Homo sapiens: one gene and its partners. The protein of the gene in region 1 purifies or fractionates together with the protein of each later gene. This does not show direct contact. Each region holds a gene or a part of one and is shown in the gene's direction. Other genes may lie near its edges.

Region 1 (3,396 bases):
CACACTTCAGAAAGATGAAAAGAGAAGGGATCAGAGCCTTAAGGCAGCCACTGTGGACGTTATAAAGAGTTTGGTCAAGGTAGGCCAGACGAGGTGACTCACGCCTGTAATCCCAACACTTTGGGAGGCCGAGACAGGCAGATCACCTGAGGTTGGGAGTTCAAGACCAGCCTGACCAACATGGAGAAACCCCATCTCTACTAAAAATACAAAATTAGCCAGGTGTGCAAGCCTGTAATCCCAGCTACTCAGAAGGCCGAGTCAGGAGAATTGCTTTAACCCGGGAGGCGGAGGTTGCAGTGAGCCGAGATCGTGCCATTGCACTCAAGCCTGGGCAACAAGAGTGAAACTCTATCTCAAAAAAAACCCCGAAAAAACAAACAAATGAAAAGTTTGGTCAAGGTGGGAAGGAAAAAGGGTGAAAGCTAGAAAAAGGTACATTAAGTGGTGATAATAGGAAGAGCAATTAGTAGATCCATGTATTGGGATTCCATTTATACTTTGCTTGTGAAAGATGACTAATGCAAATTTAACATCTTTTCATTTACATGTCATAGTTTAATTAAAGCAGAACATCTTGTTTAAAATATGTCATGAGACATGACTATAAATAAAAGTATATGTTGGGTACCAGTTAATGAATTTCCTAACCACTCTTCCCCTCTGAGGTAAAAGCAGCCAGTGCTTGTTTAGGAATGACACATGCATTAATTTGAGTTTATTCTTATAGCAGTACATTTAAATCAATACAAATCCAATCCACGTATTTTCTTGTTGTGTTTGCAGCATGGTTTGGGGACTGTGGCACTGAGCCATGCTATATATGGATGATATCCCCTGCTGGAGAATTGAAACATGCCTCTGCACAGCATTCATAATCACTTTCATGTTGACTGAATTCATGTGATGGAGAATATTTTTAATATAACATGGTAGCTTGCAGGGAGGGTATACTAGCAAAACAGTGATTTTTTTTTTAAATGCACATTTCTGTAGACATGCCCCCAAAGAGCCTGGCCAGCAATCACACTGGAACACAGCAGTGCTTTCATAAGAGGCATTCTCAGACCCAGGCATCTGTTCCTTGAATTCTTCAGTTCTAGGGGAAATCTTGATGGGGGGATATTGAAGGGTAAGGAAGCTGACTAATCCAGTCTAAAGAATATATTCCAGTTTAGCAATGTCATATTGGCTGTGGACATTTGTAACATATGTGACTCTTGCTGCATAAACTTGGGCATACAATGTAAGTCACATTGCTTTCTCGAAATCAAACTATTTCTGAATCCAAAGCCCCATCCCATTAGGCTGGGGGGGAAATTTAATCTTGGCTATTTCCTCATTCAGGGTTGGGATAGGGGCCCCCTCCCTAGGGTAGCCTGTGCTTTTGAAAGGCTAAAAATGGTCCAGACATTAAGAAGGGGGCAACACATCTTTACTTCATCATGGGGGCCATGGATACCCATATCTTCTGCACCTACGTGGCCCTTGAAGTCACTCATCTCTTCAACTTCCATGCCAGGCCCAGACACAGAAACCTTTACTGGGGTTGGAATCTTGTTGCTGAGAATCTAGCCTCAATAGGAACATCAGGCAACCATTTTCTGCCCAGGGCTCTGCCAGGGAGATGCAGTGGTACAGCATCCTAGTCCTGGAGAATCTCATGGCTCCCCTCACCACTTCTCCTTTTAACCTTCTACCTTCAGCCACAGTCTCAGAAAGTTAAGCTTGTGGGTAACAAACGTCAGGAAAGGGACCATCTTCCAGAAAAGTCTGCTTTTGATTGTTATATCCCAAATCTCCTTGATAAAAAAGAACATTAAAATCCTGCCTAATTTTGGGGGGGATAGAGGAGGTAAAAATATAGTGAAAAACACAAAATTAGTATGTCAATTAATTATCCGGACATTTATTTCTAGTTATCCAGTGGTTATCAGTCAGGGGTCTTAGTGTTGGAAAAGCCACCATATGCCAAGATGTAGACATAGCCACCCTCATTATCCCACCCATTGCAGCTGCTGTGAGGGGTCTGCTGTTTGGCTCACCCCTACTTTTTAAAAAAAGTTCCTTTGGGTGCAAAAGGAACATCTTTCTGAAAGCAGTTCCCTCCTGAGACTAGAGGAAAAAGAAACTTCTATACCCAGTTGTGCTATCACTGGCTGCTTAGTAATAACTTGTTTCCAATAGTTCTCAAGAAAATGCACTCAGATTGAGAGCAAAAGAGAGCAGCCCAGGTACTGAGCAGTCATAGACCCTTGTCATCTCCATTTGTTCCCTGAGGTTTCTCTTCTTTGGAGAGCCAGAGAAAACTGGATATGGTGATGACAGCAAGCCTAAAGTTGCTTCATTTCTGAAGACTATTCTGTGATTCTTTATTAAGCAAAAAAGAGATGGTGCTGGGGATAGTGAATAATTGCATGATGGCATTGTTGTGAGCATGATTCTTAAAGGGTCTTTCTTTAAAATGCCAATTTATACAAGTTTGAATTTATATAAGTTTGAGCTTAAAAAGTTTAGAAATGACAAAAGGAAATTACTTTTTTGAAAATAAGAAAAGATTCATAATCATACTACAGTAACATGAGTGCTTTTATATTTCACATTTTACTTTGCACATGAATGTATATTTTTATTTATCTGTAACTGCAGTATGCGTAGGCTATTGTTGAATTTCATTTTGATAGGCTATATGTGCATGTTATTTTAAAGAATACCATGTTCCAAATGAAATATTCTTTTCCCTCTATGTTTGTTCCAGGGTAACTTTTGTCATCTTTGAATCAGGATCATTTTGTTGTCCTCTAAATCTGCTTATTTCGGATATTGAAGATTGTAGAAACCCTCTAGGCCTAGTCTGCTCTTTATGGGAGGCATGGGAGACATACTTCTCTTTAGAGTGAATGTTACTGGATAGGTGCTCCATAAATTGTAGCTATTATTATTTTCATAATTATTGAATTTAACAAATATTTCTAGTGTTTTATCTGATTATAAAATTAACATGAACTATTTTTTTTTTTAAATTACAATATTGAAGAAACATTCATTCAGGCCGGGCGCAGTGGCTCATGCCTGTAATTCCAGCACTTTGGGAGGCCTAGGTGGGTGGATCACTTGGGGCCAGGAATTCGAGACTAGCTTGGCCAACATGGTGAAACCCTGTACTAAAAATTTAAAAAATTTAAAAAATTAGCTGGGCATGGTGGCACATGTCTATAATCCCAGCTACTCAGAGGCTGAGGCACAAGAATCACTTGAGCCTGGAAGGCAGAGGTTGCAGTGAGCTGAGATTGTGCCACTGCATTCCAGCCTGGGTGACAGAGCAAGACTCCGTCTCACAAAAAATAAATATAAATATAAATAAATAAAACAAAATCTTCATTCAGCAAATATTGA
Region 2 (4,159 bases), on another chromosome or scaffold:
CTAAATGCCATCATAAAACTCCATATGTGCTTGCCTGAACCTGAACCCTGATATTATTAACATACAGACTTCCACAGAGCATTACTAGGGAGTAACAAGTCGTGGAAAATGGTTAGAGAAACATATTACAGATATTTATGGGGGAGATGATCGTACTTGCAAGAAGCATTTCAAGCCTATTGCATTTTCTCAAGTGATTTATTTATAAGTTAGCTGTGACTGAAAATACTAATCTACCCATGTTTCTTTTCAGAGCATTTATTTTTTACTGACTGGAGACTGGGTGCCATTATTCGAGTCAGGAAAGCAGATGGTGGAGAAATGACAGTTATCCGAAGTGGCATTGCTTACATACTGCATTTGAAATCGTATGATGTCAACATCCAGACTGGTGAGTGAGATTGCCCAGTTTTTTTTATTTTTTTGTATGGGTTTATTTATTTGTTACAGTGGCTCCTGTTCTCTTTAAGTACTTATTACTTAAAGGTCTAGCTCCTGGTAGTTTTATATTCTTGTCGTTCACATAATCTAAGAGTGTAAGACTTGAAATCTCTGTTCAATGCTGCTAGCCTTAAACATGTTGTCAGGAAAAACACATTTTGGGACTTTTCCATACCTAAATGGAATGTTGTATTTGGCGGGTTGATTTCCAAGAGGAAGCTACTTTTTAGTATTGGGTCTGAAAAATGTTTTGTCCTGTTTGTTTTCCTTCACAAATCAAACCCGTGACCTACCTAGTGAAAATGTACATGACTGACTCCCTCGGGGCTTTGCTTTTGCAGGTTCTAACGCCTGTAATCAACCCACGCATCCTAACGGTGACTGCAGCCACTTCTGCTTCCCGGTGCCAAATTTCCAGCGAGTGTGTGGGTGCCCTTATGGAATGAGGCTGGCTTCCAATCACTTGACATGCGAGGGGGACCCAACCAATGAACCACCCACAGAGCAGTGTGGCTTATTTTCCTTCCCCTGTAAAAATGGCAGATGTGTGCCCAATTACTATCTCTGTGATGGAGTCGATGATTGTCATGATAACAGTGATGAGCAACTATGTGGCACACTTAGTAAGTAGCTATGCACTGGCGATATTTCCTGGGATGAATAGAGTAGAGGTGGGCTTTAAAGAAAATAAATAAAAGCTTGGGCTATTTATATGGGAAAAATATCTTTTAGAATTTCAGATTCTTAACATGCACTTTGAAGGCTTTTAGGAAGCTAAGCAAGAAATTTCATTCATAATGTTATGGATGGTTTCTGGCCTTGATTTAGACTATCTTCAACAATTTTTTTCCTTGACATTGGCTGTTTGGACCAATGCAGTCATTATGTCTTGGCAAACTCCTCAAAAAGTCAAATCGAAATAAACTAGATCTGACCAGGCAAGGTGGCTCATGCCTGTAATCGGAGGCCGAGACAGGAGGATTGCTTAAGTCCAGAAGTTTGAGACCAGCCTGGGAAACATGACGAAATCCGGTCTCTACAAAAAATATAAAATGGCACATGTATACATATGTAACTAACCTGCACATTGTGCACATGTACCCTAAAACTTAAAGTATAATAATAATAAATAAATAAAAAAGAAATAGATGAGCTCAGAAAAAAATATGTATATAAAATTACAAATAGCTGGGACTATTACAAAATACAAAATTACAAAATACAAAAAAAACAAAATTACAAGTAGCTAGGACTACAGGCACATGCCACCACACCCAGCTAATTTGTATTTTGTATTTTCACAAAATTTGTAAAATACAAAAATTTGTACTTGGGAGGCTGAGGTGGGAGAGTTGTTTGAGCTGGGGAGGTTGAGGCTGCAGTTAGCCAAGACTGTGCCGTGTACTTCAGCCTGTGCAACAGAGTGAAGCCCTGCCTCAAAAAAATAAGCAAACAAACAACAACAACAACAAAAACCAAAAATAAAGTAGACCTAACATTTAGCAACCGAGAGAATAGTATCACAGAATAACTACTTGCAATCATAGCCTTTGGAAAATCTCATGTGTTATATTCCTTTTCTCCCATGTTAGAGTAAAATAAATTAACAATGAAATGGTGGTCTTAACCTTTATATTCTTCTTTTGACGGTAATCTAGTCTATATAGTTTGGGGCCTAATAAACACTATTGCAGAAGGCAAAAGTATTACATTCAAATTAAAAAAAAGATAGAGGACAGTTGAAATCTCAGAAATCTCTATCAAGGTGAAGTTAATACTAATAATAACCTTTCTTTTGGAGAGAAAGAGGAGTGACAGATTTGCAAGAGTAAAGTGCTCACTTGTACATTTTTCTGAAATTTTTTAAATTTTCATCTTTTTGTGTATTATCTTCTTGTTTCTAAGAGCACAGCATTTTACCTTAATATTTTATCTATTTGCACTTTTCATATGACATATTTTCAAGCTTTCTATAGTCTGAATTTGAAATTGTGGTTGGAGGAAGTAACAGCTTGAAAGTTAAGGATGAGCTTTAGAGTGAATCCAACCAGAGCGTGAATCATAGGCAGGTTCCTAAATCTCTCAAAGACTCAATTTCCTTATCTGTAAAATGCAGACAATTATATGTACTTTATAGTATTCTTGTGAGGATTTAAAGAGAACTTATATGATGTGTGTGGGTGCATAACTTAGAAAAATGCCTTTTCTATGATAAATACCAAATAAATGCCAGCCAATAATGATGTTAGTGATGATGACATCACTTGATGAACATTTCTCCTTATTATATACAATGCCTCCATTAAAAAAGGTGAACTGAGCCTTTATAAGGCAAGAACTCATTTAAAAGGCTGTAAAAACAAATGTCTTCATGACCAGTTTGTTACTATTGTAGATAATACCTGTTCATCTTCGGCGTTCACCTGTGGCCATGGGGAGTGCATTCCTGCACACTGGCGCTGTGACAAACGCAACGACTGTGTGGATGGCAGTGATGAGCACAACTGCCCCACCCACGCACCTGCTTCCTGCCTTGACACCCAATACACCTGTGATAATCACCAGTGTATCTCAAAGAACTGGGTCTGTGACACAGACAATGATTGTGGGGATGGATCTGATGAAAAGAACTGCAGTAAGTTTTGAGCTGGTTTCCCTTGGTTGGTCAGCCTCGTAAATAGACTTCAACAACCAAATGGCCTTGCATTCTTTCCTCTAAGGCTCATGCAATTTTCATTGTCTCTTTAGTACTTCTATTCCACTTGTCAATCTCTGTGTCAATAGGTTACAAGAACAAAGGCACGTGCCTGCACATGGGATTCTTAGAGTCCACCTACAAATATTGAGTTCTATGGAAGCAAAGCAAGGACTGCCTCTGATGCCAAACATTTCAATTCAGATAGGAATTGAAAAAGTGAAAATCCCTCAGCTATCTATTTATATATTTAAAACAATACTAAAAGTCATATAGATATATCCAGACCTTTGGCTATTGATGTTTCTTTTTCATTTGGTACAAGCAAAAAGACATCAAAATAAAGAGGCACAGAAAATTTAAATTTCCTTTGATCTTATCCACCTGTTTTCCATCTTGCCAGTTCTGCTTTCCTTTAGCTTGTTGTTTTATTTCATGTCTTCAATAATAGTTTAAGATGGAGCAAAGTTCCCTGGGCTAAGTTCTAGTCCTGGTTGCCTGACTAGGCAAGTCACTATCATTTGGAATAGATGAGCTTTAAGATCCCTTCTAGCTTTCATACCCTATAAGTGTGTATTTAATATAATTTCATGTTGTGGGTGGGGCCAGCCACTGCATCCGACTCCAAGGCTATGGTCTTAACAGTAAGGTAGGACCCTGGTTTTTAGAATTGTTCTGTTCAGACTTTTAAATCCAGTTTTGGGGGTCTGTCTACACACTGTTGCTACTAGGCATGTGGGTCATGCTGGTTTTGTTGCCTGATTGGGCTCCATTGCTTGGCTTTGGTCTAGAGTCATGGACTTCATAGTATTCATGAAATGTAGTCCAAGTCCAAGCACATGATGCTCACTTTCTGAATGTGGTCTATTTTCCAAGGTGTAATCACAGTTTCTGACTCTGCCCTGTAATCTTTTTATTCTCAATTCTAAAACCTATCCTAGTTTTGAGTTCTTTTGCTTAGCTGACTTTGATAGTGTGGCTGATTCAAAAGAATTTTGAACCCATGTACAATTGAGATAACTT
Region 3 (4,159 bases), on another chromosome or scaffold:
TGAGTATTCTCAGGAATGTGGGAACATATGTGTGCCTCACATGTACAGAAGTATGGTGGCTAAGCTTTATAGTCTTGCCAGAGTTGTCAAACATCTGTTCTTCTTACTGCATCAGAGACTGTTCTTGTACCTTAAGTTAATTTAAGATTCTCTCCACCATTGCCCTCTTGCATTTTTTGTCTAGTTTCTACCTCTACGTTCCTCCTCTAGATATTTCCTAGTACTTGGTACTTAGGAGGAGGTCATCGTCATTAAAATATGAGGCATATCAGCAATTTTGTGGCTAAGTTTTTTTCTTTTTGGAGACAAGGTCTCACTCTGACACCCACACTGGAGTGCAGTGGAGGCGCAATCACTGCTCACCACCTCAGTCTTCCCAGGCTCAGGTGGTCCTCCCGCCTCAGCCTCTCGCATAGCTGAGACTATAGGTGTGTGCCACCATGCTCAGCTAGCTTTTTGTATTTTTGTACAGAAAGGGTTTTGCCGTGTTACCTAGGCTGGTCTTGAGCTACTGAGCTCAAGCAATCCACCTACTTCAGCCTCCCAAAATGTTGGGATTACAGGTGTGAGCCACTGCACCTGGCTTTGTGGCTAAGTTTTTAAGAAATTTACCAAATTTATGTGTCTAAGAGAGTTCCTCGCCTCCTCCCTACTTCAAAGTAGTTGACATGAGCAACTGTCTGCTTGAATGTCATCTTTTTTCATTGCCTAAAGTATCCTGAATATGCTAGCGCTAAACTCATTAAGGAGCCTGCTTTGAAGATGATCAAATTCATTTGGATATAGAAATTCTGTGATGTTACAAAATTAGTCTTATTTTTTGGTAGTCATGCCCACAGTACAGTTTTTGTTGTACAAGAAGCAGAGGCAGCAGGTGCTGTCATTGACAATTAAGATCTCAGCATGGAAGTCTCAGGGTCAGTGGTGACTCAGCCTGCCCAAGTGATTCTATCCTGCAGCCCTTATGAGCCACAAATTTACCACACACTCAACTGAGCCATGATGTGATGTGTGGACGGCACACCTTGCTTTTTGGAAGAAGAGGAAAAGTGTCTTTTCAATGTGACGACCAAGCTAGCAGCCTTTCTAGTGGATAGTCTCAATGCCGGCTGTGGAGTCGTTCTTGTCCTTGTTCTAAGCCCAGGAAAATTCCTCTGGTTGGCTGCTATGCAGATGGGTTTTAACCTTGAGTTGACTCTTTTTCTAGTGCCAGATGCCCCTCGAAATCTCCAGCTGTCACTCCCCAGGGAAGCAGAAGGTGTGATTGTAGGCCACTGGGCTCCTCCCATCCACACCCATGGCCTCATCCGTGAGTACATTGTAAGTACCTTCCATGAGTTGGCTGTATGTGTGTTGGGGGTGCTAGGAGATTTCTGGGTATTCTGTATGACGAGGGGGTTGATTTGGTTTAGCTTTGTAGGTGATGACCCATCCGTCAGAACATTTTGCTCCTCACCATCTTTTCTCTCCTCCAGCCTCCTTGCAAGATATTAGGATGCCCTGGACCTTTGGTTCCCTTTACTCACATTTTTTTTCTTCTCCCTTTAGGTAGAATACAGCAGGAGTGGTTCCAAGATGTGGGCCTCCCAGAGGGCTGCTAGTAACTTTACAGAAATCAAGAACTTATTGGTCAACACTCTATACACCGTCAGAGTGAGTGTCGTCATCCATTCCAGCCATCCATGCAGTCTTAGAACTGAGCGAAATTGCTGCTGTTTTGTGAGAACTCTCTACTCACCTTTGTGAGATGCATATTAGTAATCTGCAAAATACCCAACTTCTTGCCCTGGGACGGGGGAGCTCAGAGTTTCTTTCAGTCTCTTAAATGGACACCACAAAGAGCTTGACATCAGAGTTTCTGTAGATAACCGGGCGTTTATGGGAATGCCGCTTTCCCTGCTTTTAACTCCGGTATTCTGCTAGCTTTCCAGCTCCTATACTTTTGCAGTCAGCTCTTTCCTGCTTATCTTTAGCTGCAGGATGATGCAGAGCTATGATAAGTAGTCTTTCTAAACTGATTTTATGAGGTTCTTATGAAATATATTTTTAGTATTTTTAGCAGAAAGAGATAGATTTTGTGAACAACATGTTTGCTGAGACCATTAAGTGTGCACATTCATGACTCTCACACTGATAATTTTGTCAGTACCCTTTTTGTATATGTGTGTATTTATGAACACACCCCCCCATACACCTGCCCTTTAGAAGAACCTTGATATTTGTGGATCAATAGAAATTTTCTGATCTCAGGACTGTCATAATGCCCTTTACCCAAGCTCCTTCCCTTGGCTTTTTTGCCCTCTTATTTCAGATGCTGGGGCCTCTGAATATTCTGGATCACTCTGTATAAAATTTTTCCAGCCTCACTGCCAAAATCTCACCCCTTTAGCTCATTCAGTATTCTTACTGTATGGTGTATGGTGTATTGCCTTTATTTCATATTAATTCACCCTCTGATTTGAAAAGGTGGCTGCGGTGACTAGTCGTGGAATAGGAAACTGGAGCGATTCTAAATCCATTACCACCATAAAAGGAAAAGGTAAATGATCCCAGCATTTGCAGATTTAGAGAAAATATTATACAAACCCTTTCAAATGACTTTCAGTATGACCGGAAAATGGAGAAACGTAGTTTAGAAAAACATCACACAACTTTCTTCTCCCCAACACACGCACATTTTTGGGTGTCTCTGTAGTGCTTTAGATAGAGTCTTTTTGGGGTGACTGAGTGTCTTTTTCCTCCTAGTATTGAGCATTTCTTCTAATGCAGACATACAAAGGGATTTCCAAAGGCCATCATGCGCAGCCCTTTGTGAGTAGTCAAAATATCTAAAATAGAAGGAGTCCTTCCTTCTCACCAAAGCTGAAGATGATTTTGTGCATGTTCACTTACGGGGTTTTAAAGAAAGCACCATGCTGACTCTTGTTATTCTCCCAGTGGCACTGGCAAACTGTGTGTAGGTGGTTTTTTATCTTGTACTAGAGCTGATATTAGTAATAACTGATGGCTTGCCAAGGGCAGGACACTCTAGAGTGTTCACTGCTTTGCGTACATCAGCTCATCTAATTGAACAGTCAGAACAACTACAAGAAAGGATAAGGAACTGGAATGAGGTTATGTCACTTGTCCCAGGCCACACAATCAGTAAGTGACAGAGCTGGCCCTGGAACCTGATCTGCCTGACTCCAAAGCCTGTGCTCTTAACCACTGTGCTCCACGCTTCTCTCTGGGCTGAGACACATGCGGCCTACTGGACCGCCCTGCTTGCCGGGGGTGGCGGGCTCAGCATCTTGCACGAGTGCCTCATGAGGGCAGAGATCTGGTCTGTTTTTCTCTACTCTATCACGGGCATCTAGTAGAGACTAAGGAAATAATTGATGATTGAGTGAATCGAAGCAGTTAAATGAAGGGTTCTGGCATACTTTGGGAGATGGACTACAACTCATTTTCCAGAGTGGTTTTCCTGACCTTAGCCTTGACACTGGGGACTTGCATTTCTGGACTTCCAGGTATTAAAACCAGATGGACACTGTGGCATGCAATAGGACTGGAAGATTTTACTTTAACCTAAGCCTGTGAGGAATAGGCTCTGGGTCATGGAGAGTCACTATCTAGTCCCCTCTAAAATCTGGAGCCTTTGAGATCAGGGCCCAAGGCGGCCAAACGTAGTGCCACCAGATGGTCTTTGGAGCTGAATGCTTGCAGGTATTAGAGAAAGCCTGCTGAATTCACACTCTCCTAGAATTTTTATTGTTGTATCTCTTCTCTCTACAAAGTCTGTTTCAAAACACTGACCACACATACCAAGAAGGGATGTTGGAAGAGCAACCAAATACATGTACCTTGAATTCCGAAGGCACAAGTCACAACTGCATTTGAAAATCTCAGTGGATGGTTGGTTCTCTTTAACTTCTTTTCTGTGATTTTGATGAATCTCAGCTGCTTGCATATATTTGGGCTAGGATTTGTACAGAAGGCAGCTGTGTGCCACATCCAAAAAGTGTTTGTTGTAAAATATCTGTGACATAGTATCATAATAACGTTTTAAGATAAAGGACAAAGACAGCAGAGGCATCAGCCAGACGCGCCAGGTTAATTGGTGAATGTAGTGGATTAGTAATGACAATGAGAAAAGCCACCATTCCCTGAGCACTTCTTA
Region 4 (4,159 bases), on another chromosome or scaffold:
CTTTATGGTCCCGTTTCCCATGTATGTGGGAATTTTGTCCTTTGCTCTCCTTCTCCTCCTGTCTGCTCCCTGCTCCATCCTAAGCCCACTCCAGTTTCAGGGACCACAGAGAAGCAGTTACCAGCAGCATGGAGTTTGAGAAAGGCTTCATCACAACAAGGCTTGAGAGGCTGGAAGAATTCGCCTGGCAAAGGAAGGAAGGGATTTGCCGTATGAAAGGCACAGCATATGCAGATATACTGGAGTGAGAGGGCATGGCACGTTTTGGGAATGATCCTTTAGCACCTAGCCTACAGTCTGAACCAGCTGGGACCTTGGTACTCATTGCCTGCAAGCTGCCCCCTCTCTGCCCCCGAAAAGGGACCCCTTTCATAGCAACCTGGACGGGTGTGTAATTAGCCTGTAATGGCATCAGCGGGTTTGCCGTGTTATGAGTCTGCTCATTCTGCTGTTCTTCAGACTGAGCTTGGGAACTGGGCCTCGAGCCAGCCTGCTTGTGAGCAAGTTCTAGTTCCACCATTCTCAAGCCAGCTGACTTTGGTCAACCTACTTGACCACAGTGTCTCAGTCGCCTCACCCATAAAACCAGCTCACCTGCTCAGTGCTCAATAAGTGTTGTAATTGGCAGTGTTACTGTTTTCTATGGTTGTAGTTCAAGATGTTTATTCTAGCCTCTGTAATGTCTTTGTTTTTTTTTTTTTGAGACGGAGTCTCACTCTGTCGCCCAGGCTGGAATGCAGTGGCACAATACCGGCTCACTGCAACCTCCACCTCCCAGTTTTAAGCGATTCTCCTGCCTCAGCCTCCCGATTAGCTGGGATTACAGGCACCTGCCCCCATGTCTGGCTAATTTCTGTATTTTTAGTAGAGACGGGGGTTTCACCATGTTAGCTGAGTGTGGTGAAGCGCGCCTGTAGTTCCAGCTACTCGGGAGGCTGAGGCAGGAGAATCGCTTGAACCTGGGCGACAGGTTGCAGTGAGCCGAGATCGCACCACTGCACTCCAGCCTGGCAACAGCGAGACACCGTCTCAAAAAAAAAAAAAAAAAGAGAAAATATCAGAGTACATTGTAACTGATGAGAAAAAGTATTGCATTGTTTCTTGGAACTTTGATACCAATTATGTGTATGCTAGGTCATGATGCAAAATGTATTTTACTGGATCAGCCAATAAAAGTTGAGAAGCACTTGTTCTGAGGTTTATTGACAAACTAGAGGGATCCCAAAGGTGACAATCAGGATGGGAATGAGACTGAGACCATAGCAAATGGAGAGCTGGTGGAAAGAATGGAGAAGGGTTTGGCAGGAACTCCGAGGACCTGATCGCTGTTATCAGTGATCTGCAGGTTGTCTCTGGGCAGAAGGAGTAGATGTGTTCTGAATGGCCCCAGGGATGGTAACTTTGGGGAGGCAGGTTTTCAGTTCACTAGAGGAAGAGAGTTACTGCTGTCAGAACTGTCCAGAGGAGATGAGCTGGGAAGCATCACTGATGTGTGTAACAGAAAGTGGCTGAGCGCTCTCAGAGACACTGGAGAATGGATTCAGGCTGTACAGAGGCACCTTTTTTTTTTTAAGATGGAGTCTTGCTCTGTTGCCCAGGCTGCAGTGCAGTGGTGATTTCAGCTCACTGCAACCTTTGCCTCCCAGGTTCAAGGAATTCTCCTGCCTCAGCCTCCTGAGTAGCTGGGACTACAGGTGCCCCTCACTACGCCAGGCTAATTTTTTTGTTTTTAGTAGAGATGGGGTTTCATCATGTTACCCAGGCTGGTCTTGAGCTCCTGGGCTCAAGCAATCCTACTGCCTTGGGCTCCCGAAGTGCTGGGATTACAGGCGTAAGCCAACGCATCTGGCACAAAGGCACATATTTTAAGAGATTTGTAGGTCCCACACATAAGAGAGCTTATGCAGATCTGGGGTGATCAGCGCCCTCCACCCTTAATAGTCTCCAGTGGCCCCATGGTGCCCTTACTGTAATATCTGAGCTCTTCATCCTGGGTCTGCCAGGCTCTTTTTATTCTGACCTCTAGCCCTGTCTTCATCACCTGCCCTGTTCCTTTCCAGCCACACCAGGCAGGTCATAGTTCTCACTATCTGCCATACAGTCTTTATGTATGCTGACAGTCTGTCTCCTCTACCTGAGATTGCCTCTCCCTCGCCATATACTTTCAAACTCCTAGTTACCCATTAAAGCACAGTTTAAGGGTTGTTTTTTTCTGGGCCATTTCCCCTAACGCCCCTCCCTGTCTCGGACTTCTCATCCCTGGAGTGTCTGTTGGCCCATGGTATAGTGGTTAATTGTGGCATCTGGAATCAGTCCAGGATTCAAATTCAAGCTCCATCGTGTACTAACCATATGCCTTAAAAAAAATAACCTCTCTGTTCGTCACCAGCAAAAAGGTAGTACCTACCTTTAGAGTTGTTGTGGAAAATATAAGTTGATCCATGTGAAGGGCTTAGAACTCTGCCTGGTGCTCACTAACATTGGCTGTTGTAAATAGTTTATACTCTTAGTTCTCGTATCGTAATTGTCACACCTATTACATTGCTGCTGTTGGTTTACAGATCTGTCTTCTAGGCTGTGAGGTTTTTGAAGGGAAAGGACTGTGTGCCCTATTCATCTTTGTATCCACAGAGCCAAACACAGGATCAGGTATTTATATAATAATTATATATTATATAAATATATATATATAAATATATATAAATATATATATATTTTTTCTTTTTGAGACAGGGTCTTCATCTACCACCCAGGCTAGAGTGCAGTAGTGTGATCACAGCTCACTGCAGCCTTGACCTCCTAGGTTCAAGCGGTCCTCCCACCTCAGCCTCCTGGGTAGCAAACCTGAACATTTCTTTTCTTAAGACAGTCAGTTTTTGAGTGTTAGGAAATTACATAATTATTTGGTGAAGCTGTTCACAAAGCTGTGGTAATTTTTTTCTTAGCCAAAATTATTTGTTTTTGTTTTATTCGAAAATCCCTTTTATCATATTCATTAACTATTGATGAATCAATAGAATCTATTAAAAATAGCAAAAATGGCCTGGCACAGTGGCTTATGCCGATAAATCCAGCAGTCTGGGAGGCCAAGGCAGGAGGATTGCTTGACCCCAGGAGTTTGAGACCAGTCTGGGTAACATAGTGAGACTTTGTTTCTACAAAAAAATAAAAAACTAGCTGAGCATGTCCCAGCCACTCAGGAGGCTGAGGTGGGAGGACCGCTTGAACCTAGGAGGTCAAGGCTGCAGTGAGCTGTGATCACGCTACTGCACTCTAGCCTGGGTGGTAGATGAAGACCCTGTCTCAAAAAGAAAAAAAAAAAAGATAGCAAAAATGTCAGTATTTTTATAGCCTTGGTTATATAGAATTTTTATTAGCAATACACAGCAGGAGTTGTGTGGGAAGTTGGAGGTGCAGGGAGTGCTTGATTTGTGGAAGTTTTGGTGGAAGTGGGACTTGAGTGCTACCTTGAGATTCAGAGGGAGTGAGTCTCACTTCTAGAGTTGATAGGAGTTCACCTGGACAAAAGGAGCGGAAAGCAGCTTTTATAGATGGAGGAAAGTAATGGAGCTAAGAGGTTTTAAGCATTTGGTCTTCAGATGGTAAGGAACCCGAGGGGTTATCTGGTCAAAGGAAGGGGAAGGGAGTTGTGGTGAAGAACATGAACCCTGAAGCCTTGGATGCAAACACTAGCTGTGTGACCTCAGGCAAGGTACCTGACCTCTCTGTACAACTATAAGACGGGGAGGTTAATAGTACTGTTACTGTTATGAGGAATAAATGACATTATAGTATATAAAATGCTCTGCTCGGTGCCTGGCATTTAACGAGTGCCCAAATATTGATTCATAGTTTCCAAGTCTGTGTGTCGTTCCCAACTGAATGAATGATAGCTGTGCTAATCTCCTCAGACCTTGAGTCTTACAAATATCATTATTTTCTCAGTATGCTATAATGTGAACAATTTGGGAAGTAGCTATTATCTGGTAGTGTAGCGTTCCCACCGCAGGGCCTCAGGGAAGATGAGGCTCTGCTCTGTGCCACCTCCTTCTTCCCCCACCTGCTCCACTTTTTTTTTTGAGATGGAGTCTCGCTCTGTCGCCCAGGCTGGACTGCAGTGGCGTGATCTCAGCTCACTGCAAGCTCCACCTCCCAGGTT

The links.
Region 2: the proteins of EGFL6 (region 1) and LRP2 purify together in Homo sapiens (affinity purification with mass spectrometry; one large-scale study listed by BioGRID and IntAct). This does not show direct contact.
Region 3: the proteins of EGFL6 (region 1) and SORL1 purify together in Homo sapiens (affinity purification with mass spectrometry; 2 studies listed by BioGRID and IntAct, with this or other methods). This does not show direct contact.
Region 4: the proteins of EGFL6 (region 1) and ZZEF1 purify together in Homo sapiens (affinity purification with mass spectrometry; 2 studies listed by BioGRID and IntAct, with this or other methods). This does not show direct contact.

What each region holds. Positions count from the first base shown.
Region 1 is NC_000023.11:13,628,450-13,631,845, forward strand, and holds part of EGFL6 (epidermal growth factor-like protein 6 isoform 1 precursor), read left to right. Parts: intron 1-3,396.
Region 2 is NC_000002.12:169,243,610-169,247,768, reverse strand, and holds part of LRP2 (low-density lipoprotein receptor-related protein 2 precursor), read left to right. Parts: intron 1-253; coding exon 254-391; intron 392-782; coding exon 783-1,064; intron 1,065-2,836; coding exon 2,837-3,076; intron 3,077-4,159. UniProt on the Homo sapiens protein: Multiligand endocytic receptor. Acts together with CUBN to mediate endocytosis of high-density lipoproteins. Mediates receptor-mediated uptake of polybasic drugs such as aprotinin, aminoglycosides and polymyxin B.
Region 3 is NC_000011.10:121,605,638-121,609,796, forward strand, and holds part of SORL1 (sortilin-related receptor preproprotein), read left to right. Parts: intron 1-1,207; coding exon 1,208-1,320; intron 1,321-1,548; coding exon 1,549-1,653; intron 1,654-2,466; coding exon 2,467-2,539; intron 2,540-4,159. UniProt on the Homo sapiens protein: Sorting receptor that directs several proteins to their correct location within the cell. Along with AP-1 complex, involved Golgi apparatus - endosome sorting.
Region 4 is NC_000017.11:4,132,886-4,137,044, reverse strand, and holds part of ZZEF1 (zinc finger ZZ-type and EF-hand domain-containing protein 1), read left to right. Parts: intron 1-4,159. UniProt on the Homo sapiens protein: Histone H3 reader which may act as a transcriptional coactivator for KLF6 and KLF9 transcription factors.